Linked DNA regions of Homo sapiens: region 1 is linked to region 2. Evidence: fine-mapped expression QTL. A gene starts in region 2. The other region holds a variant in brackets. All regions are shown on one strand. Distances are between the middles of the regions. Region 1 overlaps CEP41 (centrosomal protein 41). Region 2 holds the start of CEP41 (centrosomal protein 41).

Region 1 (2,910 bases), 44 kb before region 2:
TTACTGATTATCTTCAGAGTAGAGCAAGAAGGTGGTCATGGATTTAAATCCAGGTGGACAGAAACTAATTATTCGCTCTAAAAAAGTCAGATAACATAAAAGACAGAATCTATAGCCAATAAACAACATGACAGAAACCAAAACCAACACAAGAAAAATTACCTACGTATTTCTTCCTAGCCTAGGACTCTGATTTCACTTACATTCCACAAGGGAATTAGAGAAAACACGATTTTTTGTTTTGTTCTGTTTTCTTGGTCGAGTAGCCTAAAGTCTTAAGAATTTTTGTATAATTTAAATAGCACCACAGGAAAAATCCCTGAGCAACTAATGAATGTTATTTGGTCTCTTTTCATTCGGATTTATACCAAGCCCAATATGATCGTGCTGGTCCTGGCTAACCACTAAAGGTTAAAAAAAAAAAAAAAGATAAAAGATAAAATGAATGCAGGCCATTTAAATCATTCCATACTTTTTCAAGAGATTGAGCCTGACATTATTACAGCCCAGGGTGTTCCTTTTGTTTTCAAATAAGTAATGTAGCTTTCTCCTTTCTCTCTCGCTTTCTGCTTCTTTTCTTCTCTCTGCCCTCCCTTCTTCCCATTTCCTTGCTTCTTTCTCCCTTCCTTTCTTTTTTTCTTTTCTCCCTTCCTTAAACACAAACCCCTTTAAAGCATTTAAGGTATTATTTAAACTTTGGCCATCACTGCTGTTCAGGGTGCTGTAGTTGTACATCGATGAAGCACCTTCTGTCTCAGGGTTCACAAGCCCCAGACAAGGGCAGCTAGTCAACCCCTGAGACGCTGGTAGGAAGCCATGATCCAGTTGTTGAAGGTGGCTTCAGTCCCAGCCTGAGCAGGAAAAGAAATCCAGGCTTTCTGACTGGAGAGCTGAGGCCCCCTGCCCTAATTGGACTGATTTCCTGATTCATTTATTTTTTTTAAAAAATGCTTTCCTAGGAGATGCAGCAAAAATCACACCAGTCTCCTGTGGCTCCCCCAAATCATCTCGACAGAAAAGAAGAGAGAAGTTGGCAGTTTTCAGCATATTAATAGCAAACGACAAATTAGTAACTATGTACTTTAATCTTCAACATTCATAATTGCACAAAGCATCACTGGTCATTTAAATAATACATGTCAATTAATCTAATGAAGAAACTGGCAAAGTAGAATGTTAAAAGCAATACCTCGAGCACGTAAAGAATGTTTGATATTAACACTTAACATGCAAAACGCAGATTAGAACAGCTCTTTTGAGCATGGTTATTTAAAATCCTTACCAACAGGGCAAAGCAAGCACTGTGGAGAAATACACATAAATATATCCAACCTGCCAGATCTCTCAGGTGAGTGCACACCAATTCTAACAGGTCTGGCTGACCTGGCTTTCCACATATATACAGTGGTTTCTAATACTCCAAAGTTGTCTGACGATGGGAACGCAGAATCGGAACAAGGAGGGAAGACCATTTACTTTCAAAATAGAATCCGGCAGGGAAGTCTCAACTCCTGACAAGTCACCTTTAAAACAGCATAACCAGAACTTTCTTACAGAGAAAAAT[C/A]TTTTTTCCTTAAAAATGTATATGTGGCAAAAATGGCTGAAAATCTTGTCCATGCTAGGGGAAAGCTGAGTGTGGAAAAATGTGCATTTTTCTATCTATGCTGTAAAGAAAATACAAAGCCAGAGCATTTTGGCATTAGCAAAGGCTGAACTAAGTTCTCAGGCAATAAATTTATGGGGAAACATGACAGGCTCCTCATTAAAGCTATGTGTACGTTGGCTGAATTTTATACAAGATTCTTGAATCTTGTGGAAAATTGGGCATGGCTTGACATCTGAACAATGTCCCTGGTTTGTTTGATTTCTAAAGCATCGGAAAATGTTGCACTTTGGAAATCAAGTAGAGAAGAATAAACACACTCTAAAACAGAACTGGGCTGAATCTGAAAGTTATTTTTCCATATGTCTCTATGAGATATTTATTACGTTTATTTCTCATACAAACACAGCCCCCATGCTAGAAATACTGTGGTGCATTTTTTTTTTTTTTTTTTTTTTTTTTTGGTGGCGAGAAAATAGTACTGTTAAGGCAAATCTTACCCCGTAGCAGTTACCAGCAGGACAGGCAATTTTCAGTGGGCTTTTCAGAAGCTGGTTGCCATGACAAAGAGCACAATTTATTCCTCAGTCCCTTATCACAGCTACGATCACAGACCATAAAAATTAACACCGCTCTTTTCCATCTGATTTCAGAGTTCCTCATCCTTACCTGAGGCCTTTTGTTCCCCCAATTAAATGGAATGAATGTCAGTCATTTAGCAATTCAATTAATGCTGATTCAAAATTCCGGCCAAAACCAGAATCTATAATCACAACTTCCTAATCACAGTTCAGTCATGAGAATGAAAAGTAAGCAGGAAATTGCACTAATTACTCAATTAGACTAATACTGTATTTCTAAGCAAGGGCTTACGAGGTTGTCAGCCCTGACAAAGGACTTCGGAGTCCTCTTCACCTTGTGTGTCCACAGTTGTCCAACCAAAGCTGGTATTTTCAACTGGCCATAATTTCTGTCCATCTAACATGGATGGACTGAAGCTGGGCAATGGGCGTCATAACTGATATACTGACCACAAGTGAGGGCCGCTTTGGTGGGCTTCAAGGGGCACAGGCCGGTGTGGTGGCCAGGGCTTTCCCATGAGAGGCCCTCCTCCCCGGTGTGAAGACACCCACATGCATACCTTTCTGGCTCCAGGAAATATCTAGTAAGGGGGAGCATTCAGTGAGTGTACAGCTACTTTCCTCATCTTCAATTTCAGTGAGTACACAGGCACTGGCTTCCATACTCAAAACAGGGCCTGCAATATGCTGGGCAGAGAGCTCCTTGCTGAGTGAGCCTGCTGGGGT
Region 2 (2,910 bases):
CCTTGGATCAACATCTTCCCATTTCTGCCCTCCTTCCCCCCACCCTCCAGGCTCTGGTAACCACCATTTTATTCTCTACTTCTATGAGCTGGACTTTTTAAGATGCCACGTATAAGTGAGATCATGCAGCATTTAGACATTACCAATTGACCATGGCTCTCTTGCAGGGCTTAGACTCAGCCTTACAGCTTTCTCAGCCTAGTACCAGGCAGCCACCAAGAGATGAAACAGTTACAACTCCTATTTGGGATAAAGGCTAAGAACCTCAGCAAGGCAGAGAAAGCCTGGACTCCTACAGGGGCCTGTTCTGAGTTCACACACTCCTTACCTTCACTTGGGCTGTTCTACCCGGGATGATGCTTCACCTGGCTAATGAATGGCCTTGCCACCCCTTCCATCTCCACAACCCTTCTCTCACTCCCTCAGTTGAGTACTACCTATTTTCTCGTAACATCTTGCTCCCCGACCACACTGTACTCAAATTCTGTTCACAGGCTCCTTCACTAGACGCAATTTATTTATTGTTTATTTTTATTTTTTTGAGACAGAGTCGCTCTTATCACCCAGGCTGGAGTGCAATGGCACGATCTCGGCTCACTGGAACCTCCATCTCCTGGGTTCAAGCGATTCTCCTGCCTCAGCCTACCGAGTAGCTGGGATTACAGGCGCCTCACCACCACGCCCGGCTAATTTTTGTATTTTTAGTAGAGACGGGGTTTCGCCATGTTGGCCAGGCTGGTCTCAAACTTCTGACTTCGTGATCCGCCCGCCTCGGCCTCCCAAAGTGCTGGGATTACAGGCTGAGCCACCGCGCCTGGTCCACTATACGCAATTTATTAAAGGGCAGAGGCCTTGTCTTCTTTGTACGTCTAGCACCTACTGCACCGTGGAAGTTTCCAATAACGTTTGTTGAAACTGCCACAAATGCAGCAGGGGACTAGCGGTGAAACAGATGAAGAAACTGAAGGGTCCTATGGAGAGAGGGGTAAGCCTAATGTCCTATTTTGCCCGTTTTCCAAAGGTTTGGTCAGCTTACTCCTGCTCTTCCTGTATCCCCACAATCAGAGATGCTGGCTGGCTTTCAACACGTGCCATTAGTGTGCAGCGCTTCCTTTGTCTTTTCTGTTTTGTAACTGTCACTCCGAGACTGTAAGCCATTTGAGGGCAAGGGCTGTGTCTTTGGGTACTTCGCTCCTCGCAGTCACAAGTACTGGCGTGCGTACGCGGGGAGAGATCGCTCCTCAAAACGGGGTCCTGAACGCTGCCCCGCGGCCCCCAAGCCCGGCCCGCCCCGCCCCTGCATCCCGACCCCTCCTCACGCCGGCCCCTTCCCGCCTTCCGGGCGGCGGAAGTCGCTGGCTGCTCTTCCCTGCCCACATGAGCCTTTTCCGGTGCGCCCGCCCCCTCCGGCTCTCCGGCCGAGACCTGGCCCTCACCTCAGGGTTCCCAATGTGCCTCCGGAGGGACATATTTTCTCCAACCGACCACGTTCGGGGTTCTAGCCTCACGGGTTGCCTCTAACCCTAGCTTCCTACCCCCACAACCTTGTTCAGCCGCCTCCCTATACCCTCTTCTCCGATTGGCCCGTCTTCCCCGGCCGGCCAATGGGGGCCCCGTTTACTCTCTCATCTCAGGGTCGCAGAAGGGCAAGACGCCGCTCAATGGTTGCCAAGGGCAACGCGGGACGCCGGCTAGCGAGGCCTTTTGTTCTCTGGGCTGGGGCTCGCCGGCTCCAGCCTTAGGGCGGGAAGAGAGGCGCGGGGGGAGGGGAAGGCTGGCGCCTGCGCAAAGCCGGGGGCGGGGGCAGTGGCTTGAGAGCCGGGACAAAACACGAGTTTTAGCTAATGTGGAACCATAAATACAACACAAGACTCCCCATCCCCCAGCTCCGTTTTATGGCCGTTTCAACCAAACATCTGGGCTACTGATTCCACAACAGGGAATATTATATGGGCCAGGGTTGTTCAGCAGAAATGGGAGAGTATGGTTTATTATTTTCTGGTTAAGTTAATATGCGAATTATGCAAAATACATGGGTAAATACAGTAATTATCGGTGCTTTAAAAGCTTTTAGGCTAGCTATAGAGCGACATCCTTAATTGCAAAGCACACGCGCTATTCTGTGGTTCATCGTTCATTTAACAAATACTTAATAAGCACCTTATGAGAAAAGCTGCAGTAGGTCTTGTGGAGAATGGGAGGATGACTAGGACCCAATCCCGTCGTCATGGAAACCATTGTGACTCCTGCCACCAGCCACCACCTGTTCCCATTCCGGATCTGAAAATGAAGTCCTAGCACCTTTACAAAACAATTACACACACAGTTTGACTTGGCTCCTAAATGTCCCACCAAATCCATCAAAATTATTATTTCCTTTTACATGAAAGGAACAACACAGTAACCCTTTGTCCTTTGCTCTAAGTTGTTTTTCCAGGAATGGAGAAAGGTTACTCTGAGCAGTTCATACTCGCCAGTTGTCTGTTAGTGAATAATAGCACACATTTGAGCTACTTCAGGGTCTGTGAGATGACCCATTCAACAACATGGCCTCACATGCCCTTGTTCTCTTAGGCACTTCAGCAACCCAACCTTAGGGCTACACCTTGGATCATGTTGCCAGTCAGTGCTGCTTGACCAGAATTTTGAATTCTGGCCACAGCTGCTTCTTGGACTTTTCATGTCACTCTTTCATGTTTATTAAGTTTTGTCTTAATTTCCATAATCTTTGCCAGTTCTTTAACCCCTCTAAAATTCTCAGTCTCTCACTCCTCTGCTAAGGAAGGGTTTGAAGGCTGCAAAAAATTGGAAGGAGGCAGAGGGAAGAATGTTAATCTAGAAGCTTTTGCATAGCAAGCAGAAACTTCTAGATTCATTAGTATTTAGAATGTATGCTTACCTGGTGCACCT

The links.
Region 1: its variant is fine-mapped to the expression of CEP41 in whole blood (TOPMed, PIP above 0.99).

Annotation. Positions count from the first base shown.
Region 1 is chr7:130,395,468-130,398,377 of GRCh38, forward strand. CEP41 (centrosomal protein 41) reads right to left here. Exons shown (of 11, transcript NM_018718.3): 11 at 1-2,910. Among named protein-coding and RNA genes, the nearest start is that of CPA1, 16 kb to the left of the region's middle. The variant C/A (reference allele first, on the strand shown) is at 1,565.
Region 2 is chr7:130,439,498-130,442,407 of GRCh38, forward strand. It overlaps CEP41 (centrosomal protein 41), which reads right to left and starts at 1,519. Exons shown (of 11, transcript NM_018718.3): 1 at 1,437-1,519. The coding sequence starts at 1,469. It overlaps LOC105375505 (a long non-coding RNA gene), which reads left to right and starts at 2,257. Exons shown (of 3, transcript XR_927973.3): 1 at 2,257-2,910. RefSeq lists an enhancer at 1,205-1,959.